Linked DNA regions of Homo sapiens. The protein of the gene in region 7 purifies or fractionates together with the protein of the main gene of each other region. This does not show direct contact. Each region holds a gene or a part of one and is shown on either strand. Other genes may lie near its edges. The genes, in order: ALG14, KDSR, SARAF, POLR1F, SEC24D, PCNX3 and SLC13A2.

Region 1 (3,500 bases), on a different chromosome or scaffold from region 7:
GACCTCAGGTGATCCACCCACTCGGCCTCCCAAAGTACTGGGATTACAGGCGTGAGCCACCATGCCAAGCCCACATTTTTTTTTAATAGTAGAAAGGAAAGGATTTCGTTCTAGATCCCAGAAGGAATTATATATAGAAACAAATTTGGCATAGATTTAGTGTGAATTTCAGGAATTAAAATCATACATTAGCTTTATAACCTGTCACCCATCTTCTTGACTGGGGCATATAATTTACACATCTGGTTTATACTCATTTTAGTATCTTTGGTTTAGCCTCGAAAAAAAACAAAAAAGTTAGGCCAGGTGCGGTGGCTCATGCCTGTAATCCCAGCTATTCAGGAGGCTGAGGCAGGAGAATCACCTGAGACTGCACTCCAGCCTGTGCAACAGAGCGAGACTCTGTCTCAAAAAAGAAAAAAAAAACAAGTGGTGGTACTCCAAGTAGGTATTTGTTTTCACAGCTGGAATAATTAAGGATAAAACCTAATATCCACAACATCTTCCACTACAATTAAAACTTCATTATACCTGCTTTAATAGTCTTTTATTTCCTTTTTTAAACTTTTTATTTTTATTTTTATTTTTTAAGGAAACCCTCATTGAATACTGTGAAAGTTGTCAGGATAAAAATAGAGTCACTTGTGACAAAATGGAGCTGGGAAAGGCCATGAAGGAAGGGTTCTTAATGCTCAATCGCCTGAAAACAAGAACTGTTACAAAAGACTATACCAAAACCACAACCTTGTACAAAGGCCACTGCAACCTTATGCAAAAAAAAACTTCTGCAAGGACATCTGCCCAGCAGTTGCCTGCCTAACCTTGGACTGATGCCACCCTTATTATTGATCCCTGTAAGCAAGGATAATTGTTTCAAAACAACTTATGTAACCCTCCCCATTTTAGCTTTAAAAATTGCTGTCTTCCCTTGCCTCTTTGAATGTGCCCATAGTTTACTCGGCATGTGTGTTCCACACTACAATGCTTACTCTTGAATACACTTATTATCTTTGGAGAATCTCTCTCTGTTATTTAGCTTGACAGTATATTCACTGAAAATTTAAACTTGTTACTGAATAAAGTCATTAAAATGATGGATTTTGTCTTCCATTTTACTCTTTTATTGATACATTTTTTTTGAGAATAAGAATCTCTAAGTTCTACCTTAAAATACATCCAGCATCCAATCATTTCTCACCATTTCTTTTGCTACTCCCCTGCTCCAGGCCACTATCACCTCTCATACGGATTATGAACAGTTTCTTGATCTGTTCCCTGACCCACTTCCCCTTCAGTCTATCGCAACATAACATCCCGTGTGACCCTATTCGAGTTGATCAAATTATTTACTTCTGCTCAAAATCCTCCAGTGGCTTCATGTCTCATGTGAAATAAAAGGCTTCTTATACTCTGACCTCAACTATGTTCCCTCTTGGAGCTCATCTCCTGTTCCTCCCCGCTTACTCAGTCTACTCTAATCACTCTAGCCTCCTTGCTGTTGGCTGTCATCTCCCCAAGAAGGCTTTCCCTGACAATCTTCATAAAAAAGCAATGCCCCTTCCCCAAATCGTAGTGTTTATCACTGCATAACTTACTATGTAGTCTATTTATTTGTTTTGCTTTTTATCTCCCTCTATCCATGCCTCACTAGAAGGCAAGCACCATACTATGAGGGCAGGGATTTGTGTTTGTTACTGCTGTACCTCCTATTCCTAGAAATAGCAGGCTGTCCTATTGAATGAAAGAATGAATGTTTGATATTAAATCTAACATTTGCCTAAGAAGGCTGTATTATGTTTCAAAGAAAAGTAGTTTTGGCAAATGTTCTCTGAACAGAAGTGATCTACTAATAATTTTTTATTTTTTTGAGATGGAGTCTTGCTCTGTTGCCCAGGCGTGATCTCGGCTCACGGCAACCTCTGCCTCCTGGGTTCAAGCGATTCTCCTGCCTCAGCCTCCTGAGTAGCTGGGATTACAGGCACCTGCGACCATGCCCAGCTAATTTTTTTGTATTTTTTAGTAGAGATGGGGTTTTGCCATGTTGGCCAGGCTGGTCTTGAACTCCTGACCTCAGGTGATCCACCTACCTCAGCCTCCCAAATTGCTGGGATTACAAGCGTGAGCCACAGTGCCTGGCCTACTAATAATATTTTATGATATCTAAAGAGTAAATGTCGCTTGGTCTTCAAGGTAAATATTGAAAATGCCTTCTGCCTCCTCCAAAATTTTGGGCATGAACTATTAAACTGCTTATTTGATTACAAGTCTTCCTTTAATTGGCATGGTTCTTTCAGGCCCTTGATACCTTCCTACCCTCAATAATCTGAATGAAGGCACCATTTGCCAGGTGAATTATCAACCTTAATTTTGGTTTCTAGTCCACCAAATGTAACACTATCAAGTGAATGGTTCTAACATCCATCCATTTGTTCAAGTCAGAAACCTGGAAATCACCCTTCAGTCCTTCCCTCCCACATCCTCTACTTTCAATCCACAGTTGTGGATTTAACTCCTAAAATCTTCCAATCTCATCTGAATGCGATTGCTTTTCTCCAGCCCCACACCTATCACTCCAGTCAGACTCCAGTCTCTCAACTCTGGCCATTCCAAGTGCTATCACCTTCTTTTCACATCCTTATCTGAAATATTCAAAAGGCTCCTATTTGTTTCTCTACTTCGGTCTTTGTCAAGACATTCTTTTGACAATGCAGGCTTGAAGTGGGTGACTCTCCACTGAAAAAGATAAGTCATGTGCGGTGGCACGTGCCTGTGGTACCAGCTACTCGGGAGGCTGTCTCAGAATCGCTTGATCCCAGGATTTAGAGGCAAGCCTGGGTACATAACAAGAGTCTGTCTTAAAAACAAAAACCAAAACAAAACTTCAAAAGCTCCTTTTGCCACCAAGACTAATAACAGTAACCATTTATTAAATGCTTATGTAAAAAGAAAAGAAAATGTCAAGACCTTCCAAATTTATTATGCCAAGGGGAAAAGCTAAGCCCTGGAAACTGACTCATGTAACATGGCTTTTTCTCTTTGGTGTATGTCTGTTGCTTCCTGACCTTTGTGTTGAGATGTTATACATTAACCAGATTCCCTAGTCTTTATTCAAACCTAGACTAAATGACATTGGAGATAGAGGCCTTTGTGATTGTTACCTCCTTATACCAGAATGTTAAACAAATCCCTTAGTGTGTAATCAATAGTAGTGTTGGGACTTAGAAAATAATATCCCAAAATGAAGGCCTTAGAAGCAAAAATTTTTCTCTGGCCTTCTCCTGTCCTCTGTCTCTCAGTCCCATACTCCCCTGAGGCTTGCCATAGAAACTAGAATCTCTCTTCCCCAGGGCGGGTCACAGAAACCAAGAACTCCTTCTCCCAAAAGCTGGTCATAAAACCTAAAAATACTACTCTAATTTTACTCCACCTTTCTGTGTAAAAACTGGCCATAAAGAAATTATCCGAGCTGGGGAGCTGGGCGAGGTGGCTCACACCTTTAA
Region 2 (3,500 bases), on a different chromosome or scaffold from region 7:
GTGGCGCAACAGAAACCGCATTCCTACTTATGGGAGCTTAACCACTTTGGTGAGGTTGAAGAACTGCATACACTACAGCTCTGCAATTCCATTTCTGGGTATGTACCATTCTTGCACACGTGCACAAAGAGAATACTGAAAGCTTTTCTAATAGTAAAAAACAAAACAAACTAACAAAAATACTGGGAACAAACTAAATATCCACCAATTGCTGAACTGATGAACAAAATGTAGTCTATACATACAATAGAATACTACGCAGCAGTAAAAAAAAAAAAATTTACTCCAACTTTTTGCAGCAACATAAATGAATTTTTAAAATTATATATATATATACACATATATATACATACATACATACATACATATATATATATATATATATATATTTTTTTTTGAGATGGAGTCTCCCTCTGTTACCCAGGCTGGAGTACAGCGGTGCAATCTCTGCTCACCTCAAGCTTTGCCTCCCAGATCCAAGTGATTCTCCTGCCTCAGCCTCCCTCCTGAGTAGCTGGGGTTACAGGTGCAGCTAACTTTTTATATTTTTAGTAGAGACAGGGTTTCACCACTTTGTCCAGGCTGATCTCAAACACCTACCTTCAACTGATTTGCCCGTCTCGGCCTCTCAAAATGTTGGGATTACAGGCATGAGCCACCGCACCTGGCCTAAAGAATAATATTGAGTGGTCTGGGAATGGTGGCTCACACCTGTAATCCCAGCACTTTCAGAGGCTGAGGCGGGCGGATCACGAGGTTGGGAGTTCGAGACCAGCCTGATCAACATGGTGAAACCCTGTCTCTACTAAAAATACAAAAATTAGCTGGGCGTAGTGACGCGCGCCTGTAATCCCAACTACCCAGGAAGCTGAGGCTTGAACCCAGGAGGCAGAGGTTGCAGTGAGCTGAGATTGTGCCACTGCACTCCAGACTGGGCAACAGAGCGAGACTCCATCTCAAAAATAAATAAATAAATAAGAAATAAATAATAATAATATTGAGTGAAGAAATCAAGTTGCATAAGAAGCATAAAGAAGGAAGTTATACAAATCTATAGAGAAAGAAAGTAGATGAGTGACTGCCTAGCTGAGAAGAGGCTGGGAGGAAATGGCAAGTGACTGCTAATACACATGGAGATTCTTCACGGGGTGAGGAAAACATTCTAAAATTGATTTTGATGACAGTTGCACAACTCTATGAATACATTAAAAATCATTGAATTATATATTTTAAATGGGTCAACTGTATGGTATATAAATTATATCTCATAAAGCTGTTAAAAAATAAGAATGATATAATAAAAGAAGTAGAACTAAGTATATTGGCCAGGCATGGTGGCTCACGCCCATAATCACAGGACTTTGGGAGGCCAAGGCAGGCAGATCACCTGAGGTCAGGAGTTTGAGACTAGCCTGACAAACATGGTAAAACCCTGTCTCTACTAAAAATACAAAAAAAATTAGCCGGGTGTGGTGGCACACACCTGTAATCCCAGCTACTCAGGAGGCTGAGGCAGGAGAATCGCTTGAACCCGAGAGGTGGAGGTTGCAGTGAGCCAAGATGGCACCACTGCACTCCAGCCTGGGTGACAGAGAGAGACTCTGTCTCAAAAAAAAAAAAAAAAAAGAACTAAACAATATATTATTATTTAGAGTTATGTGCATATATGGTAAAATTAAAAAGAAAAAGAGGCAGGGCACAGTGGCTCACTCCTATAATACCAGCACTTTGGGAGGCAGAGGTAGGCGGACTGCTTGAGCCCAGGAGTTGAAGACCAGCCTGGGCAACATGGCGAAACCCCATCTCTACCAAAAATACAAAAATTAGCCATGCATGATGGCACGTGTCTATAATCTCAGCTACTAGGGAGGCTGAGGTGGGAGGACTGCTTGAGCCCAGGAGGTCGAGGCTGCAGTGAGCTGAGATCGCACCCCTGCACTCCAGCCTGGATGACAGATTGAGACACTGCCTCAAAAAAAAAAAAAAAAAAAAAAAGGAAAGAAAAAAGAAAAGAAAAAGAAAGGATTAACACCAAAAATCGGGTTGGCATTTGCCCCTCTAGGAACAAGAAAAGAGGGACAAGGCTGCTGTGGGGGCTTCAGAGACCCTGATCATTTCTACTTCTTAGGCTGGGTGATGGGTGTGTGATTATTAATTTGCTATTATGTTTTATACTGAAATATAAATAGCATTTTATTCATCAAAAATTCCATAACCAAATAAATTTTAAATATTCCTTTCCTCTTAAGCATTTGTATAAAGTTCATTAAAAAAAAAATTAAAATGAAATTATTTGCCAGTAAAACATTCTGTTATTTGACCATTTGTAGATATGAATGTGTGTGGGAGTCTATTCATTTTGCGTGTGTGTGATATTCTGAGTTACTAGACCATTCAAACAATTCCACCTTTTAAAAAACAGTACATATATGCTTTCAATTAACTATTCACAGGTGAAGTAACTCTGTTTTTCCTTTATACAGCTGTGCTGAGTTATACAGAAAATGCATTCTGAAGACAGAGATTTACCTGTTTGTCATTAATAGAGTGCATTTCAATTTCTTTCTTTGCCTGCAGCAGCTTATCCTGAAAGCAATACAGAATAATTAGTCGTGATGACCGTCTATATGCATGTCCGTTTATTGCAAAGGAGAGAAAAAAAGCAATTATTTCTATATGTATGTATTAAATTCCAGAAAACACACAAAACAGTATCTACATTGCATAGACAGACTGGGCCACAGCCTATGAAAGAAAGAAGTTGTGAAGTATGTTAAGCTATGAATAAGTGATAAAAGTTTGAAAATTAATTAGAGAAAGATAGTAGAAAACAGATAAACCTCAAAATCCCAGTTAACAGTACTAATTGCTGAGGCTGACTCTACAGTTCTAATAAATGTCTTATTATTTAGTTGTGATATAAGACAAGAACAACTCTATTAATATGTACTGCTCCCCAAAGTTGAGGGTATGTGTGACTCCCTGTCAATACTGCTTTTTGTCCAATATTTTCTTCTTCTACTATAAACCCAAACATAGTAAGAATCACTTTCTGGATAGACTGGGTAAACTAGGCCTGGCTACTATAAAATACTCTTAAGCAAGGTTACCTGTGTAATTATGTAATTCTTCCAAGGTCCTAATTTTGTTTGTTTTACTTAGTCTCAAGAAAACAGATATCAGATTATCTTAATTTGCTGTAAAAAGTAACTTAAATAATATCATGCAATAGAGAGGAACCAAAGGAGAGGCGAATTCTTCCAAAAGGCATGCAGAGTTTCTAAACCTGAATATGTCTATAATGAAATAATATTGTCCTATGACTAAAGATACATACAGCTTGACTTTGCAAAGACTGGAATTAAAAATTACATTAGAAAAGAAAGAATTTCTCAGCCAGGCATGGTGGCTCACCCCTGTAATCCCAGCACTTTGGGAGGCCAAGGTGAGTGGATCACCCAAGCTCAGGAGTTTGAGACCAGCCTGGGCAACATGGTGAA
Region 3 (3,500 bases), on a different chromosome or scaffold from region 7:
GCCCTATTCCACGTGCCAGGGTAGGAGGGAGGATAGGACGGGTAGTACCACGAGTCTGAGAAGGGTGTTGCCGCTCTTTAAAGGGATAAAAGTAGGTTAGGCATTTTTTTCTTGTGGCTATAATTTTTAAATACCTTCCTGTTCCTAAACTGTCAGAAAAAAATATCTTTATCAAGTATTTTTTCCTGAATGTTCTGGTATATCAGAGTTAACATGAAATAAAAACCGTTTCATATTTCTGCCATTATTATGGTCACTGCTATGGGGGAAAAGTGACAGGGAGTCAATGCTCTTTCTGAATTTGCACTCGAATAAAATCTAAACTTAAACTACCATTAATACTTCATATTCCAAAATCTGGCCCCAAGCTCTTTCCAGCCTTATTTTTATCATTCTCCTACCAAACCAGACTGTTCCCCAAATGCTGTCTTCTTTCCTGCCTTCTTATTTTCTCAGATGTCAACTAAACAGTCTTTTTCTTATCTCATAATATATATGAAGGTGACACAGGAAGAAACACAGTGAAAGAAAATAACATACACAATACTGATCAAAACAAATATAGTGTACCTTCCCCCTTCCCAGAGAATCTTATTTAATAGGCTAACGTCACCACAATTTATTTTCCTTAGCAAAACTAAATGCAGTTAAATTGTAAGCAAAACAAGCCTCTTGAATTAAAGAGCAAGTGAGATCAATGCAAAAAGCTTACCTATTGCTGCCAAACAAATATCCTAGTATTCCACCAGTTCCCAAGCCTGTCCAGAACCCTGGTCCTGAATTTTCATATCCTTGTTGTCCTGTAAAAGCACTGCCAAAACCAGAAGTTGCACCATGGCCAGTATTCTGTGGTCCTTAAAATAAAAATGATTTATTATGTATCCTCACTTAAACATGACAGTCTACAAAAGCAAAGATAATGTAACATTTCAATTATTTCATCTGTACTGAATTATTAATAATACTCAGGCATCAAGTTATTAACAAGTTGTATTCAAAAAGGTATTTGTAAAATACTGGTTTATAATGAGGGAGAGCATTTCCCATAGATATGGGAGGAGAGGGATAGATTTTGGGACTGGGGAGGGTCTTGCTATAAAATGACATCTGCCCTGCTCAATCAGCTACTAGAAAATCACCCCACTTTTCAGGGTTACTTTCTCTCTGCAGTACAAACTCTAAGTGGAGTCTCTAAGAGCTCCAGATGAGAGCTGTGCCTCAGTCTCTAACCGAGGAATCCAAGGGGAGGCAGCCAGATATTTATTTGTGTCAGTTGGGAAGTCAGATCTCAAAGGGACCTAAAAAGTATCTTCTGCTCAGAGGAAGTTTTAACTGATGTATACATATATATAAGAAAGTGTGCTAATCTTACACGTGTGGCACAACAAATTTGTACATATGTACCTATCCATGTAACCACCACCCACACCAATAAACCATTTCTGGCACCCCAGAAGGCTCCCTCATGACAACTCCTAATAGATTCCCATCTATGTCAGAGATCAGCACTACTTTAACTTCTCTTACCATATTTTAATTCTGTCCATTCATGAACTTTTTCTAAACAGGATCACAAAGTATGTATTCTGTGTCCGGCACATCATTATGTCTATGGGAGTCAATCCTACCATTGCATTATCAGTTTTTTTCTTAACTCATGTGTCTTCCACCGTGTGAAAAATTTACACAGTCCCATTCTAATGTTTATGGATATTCCACCTCCATTTTTTGGCAGTTATAAATAAAACTGCTATGAACATTCCTGTGCATCTTTCTTGGTGCACCATGCATTCACTTCTCCCAGGTATGTACATAGGAATAGAATTGGGTATGCATGTTTGGGTTGTTTTACCATTTAAACTCCTACCGGCAAAGTATGAAAGTTCCAGTCACTCTACATTCTTGCCCATACTTGGTACTCTGTCTTTTTAATGTTAGCCATTATGGTGGTTATCTGGTGGCTAAAAATAATCTCCCTGTGGTTTTCATCTGCATTTCTCAGGAGACTAATGATGCTAAGCACCTTTTCTTATTTCTGTTGAACATGTAAATCATGGGTTGGGACCCCAGTACTGCTCCACGGCCTGTTAGGAACTGAGCCACACAGCAGGAGGTGAACAGCAAGCAAGCGACTGAAGCTTCATCTCTATTTAAAGCCACTCCCCCATCACTTGCATTACTACCTGAGCTCAGCCTCCTGTCAGATCAGCAGCAGCATTAGATTCTCATAGGAGCACAAACCCTACTGTGAACTGCACATGCGAGGGATCTAGGTTGCATGCTCCTTATGAGAATCTAATGCCTGATGATCTGTCACTGTGTCCCATCACCCCCAGATGGGACCATCCAGTTGCAGGAAAACAAGCTCAGGGCTCCCACTGATTCTACATTACATGAGTTGTTAATTATTTCATTATATATTACAATGTAATAACAACATAAATAAAGTACACAATAAATGTAATATGCTTTAATCATCCCAAAACCTTCTCTCCCCACCCCACCCCACCCCAACCCCCCTAGTCCGTGGAAAAATTGTCTTCCACAAAGCTGGTCCCTGGTGCCAAAAAGGCTGGGGACTGGTGAAGTAGATGTCTTCTCTTATTATAAAATGGGCATTCAAGTCCTCTTTGGAGGGCCTGTCTGCCTGTTGCTCAGATTTACAGGAGTTCATTTTATGTTCTACCGGAAATACATTTTATATATATATATGCCGGAAATACGTTTCGTAAATTTTTCCCAGTCTGTAGCTTGCCTTTTCACTCTCCTAATAGTGCCTTTTGATGATTAGATGTTCTTAATTTAAATAAAGTCTAATTTACCCATGTTTTCTTTTATGGCTAGTACTTTTTATGTTCTGTTTAAGAAATCTTTCCCTATCCTAAGGTCATAACAAATATTCTCCTATGTTTTATTCTGGAAACTTAATTGTTTTACCTTTTACGTTGAGATTTATAATACTTAAAGAATTAATTTTTATGTATAGTGTGAGACAGGAGTCAGGGCAAATGATTATTAGCAAAGTTGATCAAGTTTCTCTGATTAAGAGTATTTATAATTTAATCAGGCATTTTTTTTTTTTTTTTTTTTTTGGAGACAGGGTCTCGCTCTGTCACTCAGGCTGGAGTGCAGTGGCGCAATCTCGGCTCACCGCAACCTCCACCTCCCGGGTTCAAGTGATTCTCATGCCTCAGTCTCCCAAGCAGCTGGAATCACAGGTGCCCGCCACAACACCCGGCTAATTTTTGTATTTTTAGTAAGAACGGCGTTTTACCATCTTGGCCAGGCTGGTCTCAAACTCCCAACCTCAAGTGATCTGCCCACCCCGGCCTCCCAAAGTGCTGGGATTACAGGCGTGAGCCACCGCGCCCGGCCAATCAGGCATTAACATAGCAACCACAATATACCTTGGGAGAGAGCCAAACAGAAGAGGTAAAAGAAGTTGAAAGTAAAAAACAAAATGAGAAGACAAACCTCCTTTGGTTTCCCAATGCAACGAT
Region 4 (3,500 bases), on a different chromosome or scaffold from region 7:
AATAGTCATAAACATATAAAATGATAAATTGGACCTCATCAAAATTAAAAGTAACTGTTCATCAAATAATACCATTACAAGTTAACAGACAAGTCACAGATTGGAAGAAAATATTCAAAATACTTATCTGAAAAGAATTCATTTTAAGACTAAAAAGAACTGCTATAAGTCAATAATAAAAATACAAAAACCCAATTAAAAATGGGCAAAATACTTGAACAGGCCCTTCTTACTGAAATATATGAAAAATTGCTTATGAGGGAAACGGAAATGCAAATTAAAACCATAATGAGATACTACTATATGCCCATCAGTACAATTAAAGGACAATAGCAAATGTTAATAACGATACAGAGTAAATGAAGTGTTGAATGGGAAATCAGTCTGACAATGGTTTTATATAAATACCCTGTGAACTAGCTCTTCTGCTTCTAGTTATTTACTTAAGAGAAATGAAAATGTATGTTTTCATTCATATGTCTGAAAATATATGTTTTCAATAGCTTTATTCATAAAAGCCCCAGCCTGGAATCAATCCATCAATGAAGACAGATAATTATATTGTGATATAGTCATATAACTGAATACCATGAGCAATAAAAAGGAACAAACTACCAATACACACAACAGCATGGATGAAACTCAAAAACATGCTGATCAAAAGGCGGCAGATTTTAAGAATGTATAATGAATAATTCCATTAATATGGAACTATAGAATAAGCAAAACCAACTTATGATAAAATCAGAAGAGTAATTATATCTGCAATAAAGAGAAGGAATTGGGCCAGGAAAGGGCATGAAGATCCTTTCTAAGGAGATGGAATGGTATACAGACCTGACGAAATTCACTGAACTGAACAATATGATCTGTGCATTTTATTATATGTAAATTTTATCTCACCAAATATTAATAATAATAATTGAAGGAAAAGTGGGTGGTCAAAAATATTTGAGGAGTGGATCTTGTAGTAGGTAGATTAAAAGGGATATTTTTCATTTCATACTTTTTCTACAATCTGTTATTTCCATGTACATGTATATATGTTATTTCCGTGTATGTGTGTGTGTATTTTTACAGACAGGGTCTCACTGTTGCCTAGGCTGGAATGCATTGGCGCAATCATAGCTCACTGCAGCCTTGAACCCCTGGGCTCAGGTGATCCTCCTACCCCAGCCTCCTGAGTAACTGGGACTACAGATGCATGCCACCATGACTGGCTAATTTTTTATTTTGTGTAGAGATGAGGTCTCACTATGTTGCCCACGTTGGTCTTAAACTCCTGGCCTCAAGTGATCCTCCTGCCTCAGCTTCCCAAAATGCTGTGATTGTAGGTGTGAGCCACTGTGGCTGGCCTACATGTTTATATTTAAAATAATAATTTACACAAAGTAGATGAAAGTTAAGTTTGTTAATTTCCAAATACAAATCTACTGCCAACTTTAGTAGTCCAGTTATAAGATCCCAGTTTAACAGGCAAAGGATACTACTTGTATTAATTTGATATTGAAAAATGAAAAAAATTGGAAGTGTCTTGTGGGTTTTGTCATGGTTAAATTGATCTATATTTTTATGAACAATATCAAGGGTTAACAGTTCTGATCTATTAAAATATTTATCAGCTAAGGAAAAGAACATATACACACACATACAAGTATACATACGAACATGTGTATACACACAGAGAACTGCTGGAGGAAGAGAGGAGAAAGTAAAGAGTAAAAAAGGATCTATTTCAGCAGATTTTGTATCAATATCTGCATTTCCAGCTTATGAAAAACTGGAAGACCTTTCCCACAGAGCTTCCATTTCCAAGGCACAGACTGGCTGCCCTGTCCTCTGTCATTGATAAATTTTCATTACTGCCTGGCCCATTTGAATTCCTGTTTCATATACTGCTATATTCTTTGAATCCTTTATAAAGAAATAGTATTTGTGTAGAATTGAGAACTTTTGAAATAATAATGATAATTGATTTTTTTGCCCTTAAAATCATTCTGCTACTATGAAAAGAATAAAGTGGATGGGACATATATCGTGTGCATGTATGTGTTTTAGGAGGATATTCAAAAACTTACCTACGTTTGAATGATACAAATTAATTTTTCCTTAAAAATAATATTTATTTACTCACAATAGCAATTTATTTGAGTCCCAAGGTATATATTATCTCTTAAAATGTTCCAAGTTACATAATTATAGAATTATACAAAGGGAGCTAGAAAAAAGTGATACACATACCATAAGCTTCTGCCCTGGTTCAGGGCAGAAAATAACAAAATCGGCTTCAATGTTAAGATGAATGTGTCCTTGATCATCATAAATATCTCCAAGCTCTCCCACAACTTTGATGTTATCATATGCAATAGGGACACCTAAAAGGCTGTAAAAAGAAAAAGTTGAAAATGATACCTTTTATCGTCTTTTATTTATTTATGTTTTTGGAGACAGGGTCTTGCTCTGTCACCCAGGATAGGGTGCAGTGACATCAACAGGGCTCACTGCAGCCTCGACCTCCTGGGCTCAATTGATCCTTCTGCCTCAGCCTCCCAAAGTGCTGAGATTATAGGTGTGCACCACTGCACTCTTTCAAACCAGGCCATTTTCATACTGATTAGATATTCTATCCAAAACTTACACATCTCCTAAATACACCACCTATGTCAAAAACAATAGTATATGATTAGTCTGTAACAACTTTAGTAGTCCCATTTCACCAATGGATTCTGATGTGTTGGCTAAGTTAAAATGATGACTCAAGATACACAGAAACAAAATGCCCAATTAATGCATTAGCAGTAAATCAACTCTTCTTCCCTGGCCAAGTCCCATTCTTTCTATCCTAGCATGACTATTTGAATTCTTCAAGTTATACTAGGATAGAAAGAAGGGACTTAGCAAAGAAAATGTGTATCTCTGTGGACATGACTGAATAAGAGGCAATTTTGGTATTATTCACCATTACTGAATTTCAGTACTTGACGGCGTATAACAAGGGAAGCATTACGGTTAAAGCTGAAGCCCCTGAATTTTAAAGTCAATGACTTAATAGAGAAAATCCCAAACTTCAACTGTTGATAGTAAATGCAAATGTTAATACAACTACATTATTTAGGAACTGACTGACACTTTAGTCTACAAATGTAACAGTCATGATTAAGGGACAACTATTTTTCAAACTGTTATTTCTTAGCTTTTAAGGAATTATAACTATTAAGGAGAAAGACCTAGTGGTGGGAGGCGGAGGGTGTGGTGAGCTGAGATCTCAGCACTGCACTCCAGCCTGAGCGACAGAGGGAGACTCCATCTCAAACAAAGGAACAAAAAACAACAAAACAAACAAAACCTGGTGGCTTCATTACCACACCCACTACTTGTTGGAGAAAACTTCCCTGACTCCCCCAGGCAAAGCTGAAATCATTCCTCTACTCCTATAGGCCAACTTTCTCACTGTTCTTAATCTAATTGTATTGAACCTATCTGTATATATGTTTGAATTT
Region 5 (3,500 bases), on a different chromosome or scaffold from region 7:
TAGTTTTACTTAGCAAATTCATATACCACTATTTTCAATAAATATTATCCTTATAGCACTACACTTTAATACAAAGTTCTAAACCCCAAACCCAGCAAAGTTAGAAAAACATGAGACTTGCAGTCACAGACAAGTTTGAATTTGTGACTCCGATAAGATACTCTATTTTTCAGAGCTTCAACTTGTAATCCCATGTCATGGCAATAATATTCCCTAGCTCCAAGGATTGTTCTGAGAATTAAATGAACCAATGGATATGACGGTTTTTAAAACAGCTGTTTCATCTTCCCTGGCCATAGCCCCTGCTCTCCTTTCTTAAGCATTTTTATTCTAACAAAGCATATGCAACATAATTACAAGCACATTTATATTTTCATTTTAAAAACATTATTTTGGACAAAAGTAGGCAATTCACAACAGTAGCATTAAAATATTTTCAACTTAAATAATTACATGCACTACGAGAAGTCGAAAATATTCTTTTTTTTTTGGTCTTTTTTTTTCTTTTTTTAAATTTGCCTCACAGCTCTCCAAAAATATTCCCCCTTTAAAAAAATAAGTAGGATAGCAGCAATTTTCATGAAAACCCCTATAGACATGTCTAGAGAATTAAAAAAAAAAGCTCTGATATATGCAAGCAGAACTTTATACATCAATATTACTGTGCTCTCCCTTTTGTTTGGGAATCAACTCTATGGCAGTGATTCAAATCATTCTGTGGCATTCTCAAATCATTCTCATTATTATTCAACATACATTTAAGGTGCCTTTGAGCCATTTGAGAGAAGAGACAACCATGTAAACAAATCATTACAATGTCTTGGGATGACTGTTACAATATGCAGAGAGACTACCTAACTCTTCCTGGGGGAATTGAGAAGAGTTCAAAGAAGGAGGACTGCTTGAGCTGAATCTTGAAGGACAAGCAGGAGTTTTCTTCATATAGAAGACAGGATAAGGGATTCCAGTTAGAAAGCAAAGCTTGAGCAAAGACATGAGAGAGGATGGCACGACCAGGACAGGGGAAAGGCTTGGTGTGGAGAGGCTGGGAGGGAAAGTAGCCAGAGTGGAAGCTGTCCAGGTTGGCTGGGGTCAGACTGCAAAGTCCTATGTGTCACTTGCACTTCACCCCCAGGGCAAAGGGAAGTCAGTATCACTGATATCTGCAAAGTCATAGTCTTCCCCCAGCCATGTTATTGGCATTTTCAAAAGTACTCAAACACAAACAGAATCAGGTCCTTTATAGAGCAATATGAGAATTTTAATAGGAAAGGAACACCGTGCAATGAGAATGAACTGTTCTTAAGACACCCCCCACCAAAAAAAATCTAAGATCACAAGTTGGTCTCTCACACAGCGGCAGATACCATGGACCAGTAAACACAACAATTCCAATCCCTTTCTGACTTTTCTATTAATATTAATATAAGGTCTTGAGGTGGAAAAGTGAAAATTCCTAGACTGCCTTACAATTTGTTTTGCCATATGCTCTAAATTCAGCAAAGCAGCACACCTCTGGGAGACTCTGGCCAGCCTGGTGGCAGAGATGATTCTCCTGGGAGAGAATGGTGGTGACTTCTGGTGGAATGGTCCTGCATGGGAATGTTCATTTTCATGGACCACATACTCCCAAGTCTGGTTCTCTGCCTTTTTCTGATGTTTTGTTTGCTTCCTGATACCCTTTAACAAATCCCTTTCCACTAAAGGGGACTGTTATCAGCAAAGTAACACTGACCAAACCACATCACAGAATAGCATGCCTTGAATTTGGTCCTGGACCTGACAAACTAAAACCAAAATTAAAAGCCATTTGTTGGGGGGGGAAAATGTTTATCTAAAATAAACAAAGATAAGCTCCCTATTATATGGGTAGAATTGTAATGACCATGGTCCCTAAAGCACCATGCTTGATCCACCTATATAAGCTCACTATTAGGAGCCCTATCACCACCCCACAGCCCCTGTTCTAGGTTCAGGACATTAATACTTTTTTTTTTTTTGAGACAGAATCTCGCTCAGTCTCCCAGGCTGGAGTGCAATGGTGCAATCTCAGCTCACTGCAAGCTCCGCCTCCCAGGTTCACGCCATTCTCCTGCCTCAGCCTCCCGAGTAGCTGGGACCACAGGCGCCTGCCACTACGCCCGGCTAATTTATTTGCGTTTTTAGTAGAGACGGCGTTTCACCATGTTAGCCAGGGTGGTCTTGATCTCCTGACCTCGTGATCTGCCCATCTCAGCCTCCCAAAGTGCTAGGATTACAGGCGTGAGCCACCGCACCCGGCCTTACATTAATACTTCTTAACTCTCAGTCTCCAGACCAGTGTCCTCAAGCAAGGGCGATTTTGCCCCTAAAATAGGACATCTGGCAATGTTTGGGACATTTTTGGTTGCCACAACTCCCAGAAGGTTGGGGGAGGTACTACTGGCATCCAGTGGATAGAGACCAAAGATGCTACTAAATATCCCACAATGCACAGGATGGCACTCTGTTACCCTCCCCCAACGAAGAATTAATTGGCCCCAAATGTCAATAGTGCTGAAGCTGAAAAACCCTGCTGCAGAGAGCAGTATGCCCAGCTGTAATTCCTTCTCCACACTTAGTAATGTTCTATGTAGCTTTCTAAACTGTACATACATTGGATTGTGACCCTTCCCAGACTAAATCACTTCAGTGGTACTCTACTGCCCTTACAATAAAGTCTAAATTCCTTAAAATGATCCCACATTCCCCCGCCAATGGCATCTCTCACCGTTCCCATGCTATTCCCCAGCTATGCCAAATGTCTTGCAGGTCCTGAAAAGTACCGCCTTCCAATCCCAGCAAACTGCTTCCCGACCTGGCCAATTCTCACTCATGTTTCAGGGCATTCCCTCCGGGAAGGAGCCCTTCCACCCTAAGTCTTGTTTAGGTGCCCCTGCCACGTGCTTCCATACCACCCTCTACTTCCTTTACAATAGTACTTCCCCACAAAATTGTCATTGTTAATTTCTTTAGTGCATTTCTCACTAGCTAAGTAAATACTATGAGGACTGAGATTAGGCTTATTTTATTAAGTGTCATATTACCACAATTATTTTGTTCATCAAATAAATTGTTAAATTTGTGGCTGGGTGCAGTGGCTCATGTTTGTAATTTCAGCACTTTGGGAGGCCAAGGCAGGAGGATGGCTTGAGGCCAGGAGATCGAGACAGAACTGGGCAACATAGTGAGACCCCATCTCTACAAAAAATTTTAAAATTAGCTGGGCATGGTGGGCACACCTATAATCCTGGCCACTTGGGAAGCTGGGGCAGGAGGATCATTTGAGCCCAGGAGTTCAAGGCTGCAGTGAGCTATAATTTCGTCACTGCAATCCAGCCTGAGTAACAGAGCAAGACCTTGTCTCTTTAAAAAAAAGTGTTAGGGGCCAGGCGCGGTGGCTCATGCCTATAATCCCAGCACTTTGAGAGGCCGAGGCGGGTGGATTACCTGAGGTCGGGAGTTTGAGACCAGCCTGACCA
Region 6 (2,582 bases), on a different chromosome or scaffold from region 7:
AGGGAGGGCGTGTTGCTGAGGATGGCGCTGCGCCATGCTGGGTCACCCTCATGTGAGATGACCAGCCGCTCCTCGTTGGCCGCAATGGCATCGTATAGGGCTGCTGGCTCCTCATATTCATCTGGGGACGTGAAGTGGTCCTGGTAGAGAAGACGGGAACAGGGGTCAGTGGCCCCTGCCCTGGAGAGAGGCTTCATCCCCCACCTGCCCATGCTGCTGGGCACACCCCTCCCCAACCTGGTGAAGCTTGAGGGCCATGCGAACCCCAGGCGCCACAACGCGGTGAAGCAGGTCCATGTCGGCAAAGACCCACTCGTCACGTGGGGAGGTGATGCGAAAATCCCCCTTGAACAGGGCGTGCAGGCCGTAGAGGAAGGGCTCCAGGCTAAGTGGGAGGAAAAACAGGGAGGGGAGAGAGGGGTGTCGAGGACCCAGGGGTAAGGCTTCAGAGTGATCCAAGCAGAGGCCTTTCCTCACGCTGAGCCTCAGTTTCCCCATCTTGACAAAGAGGCCAATCTCTGCCCATGTCTCTCACAGAGCACTGAGGAGCAGGCAAGGTCATGACCAGGAAGTGCCCTGCCCGTGGGAGAAGAGGTACCCCAACAGGAAGGGCCACTGCAGTTTCTGTGGCCACTGTGGCCAGAGACCACAGTGCTCTTCGTGGAAGAGGTGGGGTGGGGACGGCAGTAGGCCCCGCGGGACACCCGAGCACTCACCTTGCAGACATGCTGTGAGAGGCTGTCCCCAGGGCCCGGCGGCCCAGCACACACAGGCCAAAACACAGCGTGACCAGCGGGGAGTTCCAATCCTGGTCCACGGGCTGTGGCATAAGGACCCCCATCCCAGAGCCCAGCTCAGACCTGGGACAGGGACCTTGGAGTGGGGGCTGGGGCTCAGGCTAAGGGAGGCTCAGAGTGAGAGGAAACCAAATGGGGAGAAGGGGAGCAGGGAAGCCCAGGTCCCACAGCCCCAGGTGGCAGCCTCAGGTAGTGGAGCCTGACCTGGCTGCGCCGGGAGGCGCAGTACTGGATCCACTCGAGGTGCACAGCACAAAAGGAGGGCAGCGAGAGGCCAGACAGGCGGAGGTCATAGTCCTCATCCACACTCAGCGAGAAGGTGGGATCCGAGTCGGCATAGCCGGGCACCCGCACAGGCCTCAGGGCTGCCGTGATGCCCTCATGGCTGAGCCACACCTCCAGCTTTGGTGAGCGGCTCACGTAGTAGATGATGCTCTGGGAGAGGAGGGGCAGGCGTCAGGCCGGGGTCCCGGCCCTGGCCACTGGAGGAGAAAGCATGGAGGTTCAGAGGCTCCTCCCCAAGACTGAGCTGAAGTCCGCTTTCTGGGATGCCCCGCTCCTAGAGCCATCTCAGCTCTCAAGAGCAACCAAGCAAGTTGGCTCCTTCCCCTAGACCAGGGAGGAGTGACAAAGCCGCCAGGAAGCACCCACTTACAGAGCAGGAAGTCCTGTGCTGGGGCTAGCACTCACAAGCAGCATCTGCCTGCCTCTGCCCTAGAATATGCCCCGTTTGTATGAGAAATTGAGGCTCAAACAAATGGCAGCCCCCAACGAGAACAAGATCATCACACTCAACATTTACCACCTCAGCTTCCAAGTCATCAAGGTGGAGCTGGCCCCACCTGCCCTGAACCCTGTCCCCCACCCGCCTCTGGCTGGCCCCGACACTATGGTGTGGCCCTCAGGTGAACCTTCAGTGCCTGTGCAGCACGTGGGCCAGGTAGCAGCAGGAGCTGGTGTTCCTGCACAAACATAACCCCGAGCGCGGGAGCATCCAGATGTCACATGGGCAGGGGGCGGGGAGCGAGTGGGGCAGAACAGACTGAACTGCCGCCTGAACCCCGGACCTTCCCCATCATGACATTGTGGGATCCAGATCTCGGGGCCGGAAGGGCAGGCTGAAGTAGTGGGCCTGCCTCAGAGTGCCTGGGTCACAGGTCCCTTTAGGCAGCTGAAGCATGACAGCCATCAGGCCTCGCCTCAGAAAAAAGCCACGGGCACATGTGGTACCCAAAGCTGGGGGCTCCTGGACCTCTTGTTAAAAGGCCCTGTTGGGCAAAAGTACAGGAGCTTTGGAAGACAGGTAGCTGGCATGGCCAGGATGCACGGGCGGGTTAAGGCCGGCAGGGCAGCCAGTGAGGTGATGGGGATTCCATGTGCCACCCTAAGATGGAGCTAATGGGGCAGGCCCTTTGCCAGGGCAGACCCGCTCCAGACTGACTTTCTTGCCCATAGCTCGCCTCTACAATCCAGGCACCACCAGAGCTGCTAAAAAGACCCAGAAAAGAAAAGCTTCAGCCAGACAGGGTGGCTCACACCTGTAATCCCAGAACTTCGGGAGGTGGAGGTGGGAGGATCGCTTGAACCCAGGAGTTCAAGACCAGCCTGGACAACATGGCGAAACCCCATCTCTACAAAAAATACAAAAATTAGCCAGGCATGGTGGTGCATGCCTGTAGTCCCAGCTACCTGGGAGGCTGAGGTAGGAGGATTACTTGAACCTGGGAGGTGGACACTGCAGTGAACCCAGATGGCACCACTGCACTCCAGCCTGGGTGACAGAAT
Region 7 (3,500 bases):
GGGATACCAAGACCTGGGGCACCAGAGAGGGCATGTTGTATTGTCTGTGAACACACACGTGTGCACTGTCCAACATACATACCTAGGATCATGTGCATGCACACAGCCCCCCTCAGATAGCCTCACGTCACACACCCCTCACATCCATGCAGGCGCACACATATGCGCACACACACATGCACACACCTTTTATTCCAGCACATAGGAAACTGAGCATACACCCCTTCCTTACAGACACGCAAGAGATTATGTACACACGTGCCTTTCAGCCTTTGGCCTGGAGCTTGGAGCTTGGAGCTTGGGGTGTCCCCTCCGGGCTCAGAGGAGTGGGAATGGGGTGGGTCTTCCTGGGCATGGCCAGGCTGTGCCCCAGCCTAGGGGCTTGGTGTGGTGGTGTTGGCCAGGCTTGGCAGGCACTGGGCTGTGGTGTTGGACTGTGCCCAGGAGGGGAAAGAGTGCAGGCTGAAGAGGGGGATGCCCCAGCTGTTGATGGCCAGTGCGATGATCAGGACTCCAATGATGTTGAGGAGGAATCCTGCCCGGGCCTGGTGTGAGGAGAGTCCATTTGGCTAAGCAGGGACTGGGCTGGACTGCCCCCAAGTCCCCAGGTGTTTGGGGGTGCACAGGAGCCCTCCTACCAGCAAAATTCTCTCTGGGAAGTCCTCCCGTTGGTCTAACCTGCAGCATAGCCAATGCCTTTGCCCCTTGCTTTACTCCCTGTGCTAACAGGGGAAAGGGGCGCTCCTCCTGAGCTTCCAGGGCCCTGGGCTTGTTCTCTCTGAGCTCATCTCCCTGAGTGTGGGTGCCTGGCACCTTGGAGCCTTCCCCATGTTCCCCACCCACTTCCCTCCCTCTCACATAGCCTGGGGCTGGCAGGGCCTGAAGATGCCACCACTGAGAGGTCATGTCCCAACCTCCCCAACTGCACCTTCATTCCAGATGAGGACCCGCTCAACTCTGAGACTCTCAGTGGCTTTAAGCTGCTTTGTGGTTCACTAAGATGAAAAGTCAGAGCAGGAAGGAGGGATGAGGCATTCAGGCCTCCCTGCCACTTACCATATCCAACACTTTGAGGTCCCCGAAAGAGAAGACGATGGCATTGGGCGGGGTGGCCACAGGCAACATGAAGGCCAGGGAGGTGGCCAGAGTGCAGGGGAGCATGACGTAGAGAGGGTGGAGGCAGATGGCCTGGGCCTGGAGTGGGAGGCAGTGGCGCAGAGCTGAACTTGGTCCCCAAGCCAGAGGGAGGGGCATGGCCCCCAATTCTCCTGCTTCTCTGGGGAACAACCCCTGTACCCTAATACACTCTCTGGTCATGAGCCCACCTCTTCTCCCAGAAGGCACTGGGTGACCTGGAAGGGCCTCTTGACCTCTCTGGAGGGAATGAGTGTGCTGCCCTGCCTTGTGGGGTGTGGTGAGGGGAGGGGCCCATAAAACTGATCTCAAAGGGGCTCCGGGGGTGTCATCAAAGGCTGCAGGAACACGCCTGGGGAGGAAGGGGCTTGGGACGCTTCGGGGAGCAATTTCACCCCGTCACCTCAGGAATGACCAGAACAGGGACTGGGGTGGGGAGGTGGGTGAGGCCACCAGGATCCCCATCAGGATACTCCAGGGGTGACATCATGAGGGACGGGGTGAGTCAGGGGCCAAAGCGCCTTGGGGCCCAAGGTGGCTCAAGAGCCTGGAGAAGGATGGAAACTCAGGGGTCCTCTTCAGGAAAAGGAAAAGAGGAGGTGCAAAGACAGGATACTCTGCCCAGCAGGCAGAACCCCTGGTGGGGCAGGCAGGCGGGCTGCCTGGAGGAGGTGTTTCTGAGGGCCAGCTCACCATGGAGGCTAGGATGGGCAGGAAGATCGTAGTGGTGGCCACGTTGCTAGTGCACTCGGTGAAGGTGGCCACCAGGAGGGAGAGGATGATGGCAATGGCTGGAGCTGGCACACTCTGCAGTGGGGTCAGCTTGTTTCCCAGCCACTCTGACAGGCCCGATCGCTGTGGGCAGAGGAGGATGGCATGTGAGAGGCAAGGCTGCCTGGGCCCCCAAGTCTTCTGCCGAGGCTCTATGAGGCTCCTGCTCCTGCTAACATCTCCCTGGTATTCAGAGTCAAAGACAGCTCTAAAGGGATGATAGGACCCAGCTAAGACCAAGGGGTGCCCTTTCCTGCTCTTGAAGAACAGCTGGGTGTGGGAAGAAGGGGCAGATGAGAAATTAGGAGGGGGCCAAAGGGCCTTCTTGGGAAATTTGGGGCTTGGTGGGAGCAAAAATCTTTGACCGCACTGACTCCTGCCTTCCTGACCTCTCTCAGGAGGTCCCTGGACAACCTTAGCCCTCTTCCTGCCCCTTCCAGTCCAGTGGCTTGGGGCAGAGGGAACCTTGCTCCTGGCAGGGAGGGAAAGTTGGGGGAGGACCCTGACAGAGGCTGCAAGAGGCTAATGGGAGGACAGGGACAGTCCACAGGGTCAGAAGAGCTCCGAGGTCTTGCCTTCCCACGTCTGGAATGCCAGGCTGTAAGGTGGGACTTAATCTCGCTCAGTGGGGCCAGCGCCTAGCACAGGACTGGGCACAGTCAGTGGATGAACATGCCACAGACCCAGGAGTCCCCTGCACCGATCCCTGACCTGGGCAGCCACCTTCTGTTTGAGCCAGAACACGGAGGCCCAGGGATGCCGTGTCAGGGATTTCCCTCTTTTGGATGGAGGCTCTGGGGAAAGATGTTCTGGTCCCCAGAGCCTGGGTGGGTGTGATCATGGTGCCCCCTGGTGGCTGCGGAGGGCAGACCGCGTCAACACAACCCCCAATTACTTTGGTGCTGATGCTACTGTGTGCTCTGGCAGCGGGCAAAGGGCTGGGGTGGGATGGCATTTGTCTCTGAGAACAGGCTCTGCCCACCAGAGAATCCTGCCTTCCCTTGGACTTTGAGAACTGAACAAAGAGGTCCCTAGGGCTTGTGTTTCTTCCTCCCACATGAGGGCTCTAACCTAAGTCTTCCCAGCTGCTGCAAAGGCTCTGCCTACCCGAGAGGCTCCTACGTGGGGACCAGGTCTCCCCTCTGTGGGACAGAAGCAGGGCCCCCTCTCTCCCTGCCACAGAGACACCCTCACACAGGCTGAGGAGGGGGCTGGGGGCCTCTCACCTCACTGCCCTTGGCCAGGGCATAGCCACCACCCAGCAATAACACGATATTCCACGGCATCTTCTGGTTCACCGTCTTCCAGTCGAGGAGGCCAAGAGGGGCCTTCAGCTTCCCTGGGTTTTCTACTTCCCAAGCAGAGAAGGATGGGTCACCAAAGAACAAACAGGCCTTTCCCCTCTCCATTTGCGGGCTCCCTGTGTGGGTCCCTTTTGGAGCTTAACGCGTGCAGGAGGGGACCCTCAGTTCTGCAACATCTCAACTTTGTCTCCGAGTCCCTGTGCCCTTGGCAAGTCGCTCCAGCCTTTCTGGGCTTTGCCTACTCCTGCCAAGTGTGGTGGAAGGTACATTACATACTTGAAGGCAGGGGCT

The links.
Region 1: the proteins of SLC13A2 (region 7) and ALG14 purify together in Homo sapiens (affinity purification with mass spectrometry; one large-scale study listed by BioGRID and IntAct). This does not show direct contact.
Region 2: the proteins of SLC13A2 (region 7) and KDSR purify together in Homo sapiens (affinity purification with mass spectrometry; one large-scale study listed by BioGRID and IntAct). This does not show direct contact.
Region 3: the proteins of SLC13A2 (region 7) and SARAF purify together in Homo sapiens (affinity purification with mass spectrometry; one large-scale study listed by BioGRID and IntAct). This does not show direct contact.
Region 4: the proteins of SLC13A2 (region 7) and POLR1F purify together in Homo sapiens (affinity purification with mass spectrometry; one large-scale study listed by BioGRID and IntAct). This does not show direct contact.
Region 5: the proteins of SLC13A2 (region 7) and SEC24D purify together in Homo sapiens (affinity purification with mass spectrometry; one large-scale study listed by BioGRID and IntAct). This does not show direct contact.
Region 6: the proteins of SLC13A2 (region 7) and PCNX3 purify together in Homo sapiens (affinity purification with mass spectrometry; one large-scale study listed by BioGRID and IntAct). This does not show direct contact.

What each region holds. Positions count from the first base shown.
Region 1 is NC_000001.11:95,066,452-95,069,951, forward strand, and holds part of ALG14 (UDP-N-acetylglucosamine transferase subunit ALG14), read right to left. Parts: intron 1,095-3,500; exon of another isoform or gene 593-1,094; intron 1-592. UniProt on the Homo sapiens protein: Part of the UDP-N-acetylglucosamine transferase complex that operates in the biosynthetic pathway of dolichol-linked oligosaccharides, the glycan precursors employed in protein asparagine (N)-glycosylation.
Region 2 is NC_000018.10:63,357,207-63,360,706, forward strand, and holds part of KDSR (3-ketodihydrosphingosine reductase), read right to left. Parts: intron 2,587-3,500; coding exon 2,530-2,586; intron 1-2,529.
Region 3 is NC_000008.11:30,066,065-30,069,564, forward strand, and holds part of SARAF (store-operated calcium entry-associated regulatory factor isoform 1 precursor), read right to left. Parts: intron 855-3,500; coding exon 713-854; intron 76-712; coding exon 1-75. UniProt on the Homo sapiens protein: Negative regulator of store-operated Ca(2+) entry (SOCE) involved in protecting cells from Ca(2+) overfilling.
Region 4 is NC_000007.14:19,702,538-19,706,037, forward strand, and holds part of POLR1F (DNA-directed RNA polymerase I subunit RPA43), read right to left. Parts: intron 2,900-3,500; exon of another isoform or gene 2,821-2,899; intron 2,384-2,820; coding exon 2,242-2,383; intron 1-2,241. UniProt on the Homo sapiens protein: Component of RNA polymerase I (Pol I), a DNA-dependent RNA polymerase which synthesizes ribosomal RNA precursors using the four ribonucleoside triphosphates as substrates.
Region 5 is NC_000004.12:118,826,127-118,829,626, forward strand, and holds part of SEC24D (protein transport protein Sec24D), read right to left. Parts: intron 1-3,500. UniProt on the Homo sapiens protein: Component of the coat protein complex II (COPII) which promotes the formation of transport vesicles from the endoplasmic reticulum (ER).
Region 6 is NC_000011.10:65,632,776-65,635,357, reverse strand, and holds part of PCNX3 (pecanex-like protein 3), read right to left. Parts: intron 1,280-2,582; coding exon of another isoform or gene 1,233-1,279; coding exon 1,002-1,232; intron 821-1,001; coding exon 717-820; intron 386-716; coding exon 238-385; intron 141-237; coding exon 1-140.
Region 7 is NC_000017.11:28,494,144-28,497,643, reverse strand, and holds part of SLC13A2 (solute carrier family 13 member 2), read right to left. Parts: intron 3,454-3,500; coding exon of another isoform or gene 3,371-3,453; exon of another isoform or gene 3,271-3,370; intron 3,257-3,270; coding exon of another isoform or gene 3,254-3,256; coding exon 3,132-3,253; intron 1,990-3,131; coding exon 1,828-1,989; intron 1,195-1,827; coding exon 1,057-1,194; intron 546-1,056; coding exon 375-545; 3' UTR 1-374. UniProt on the Homo sapiens protein: Low-affinity sodium-dicarboxylate cotransporter, that mediates the entry of citric acid cycle intermediates, such as succinate, citrate, fumarate and alpha-ketoglutarate (2-oxoglutarate) into the small intestine and renal proximal tubule.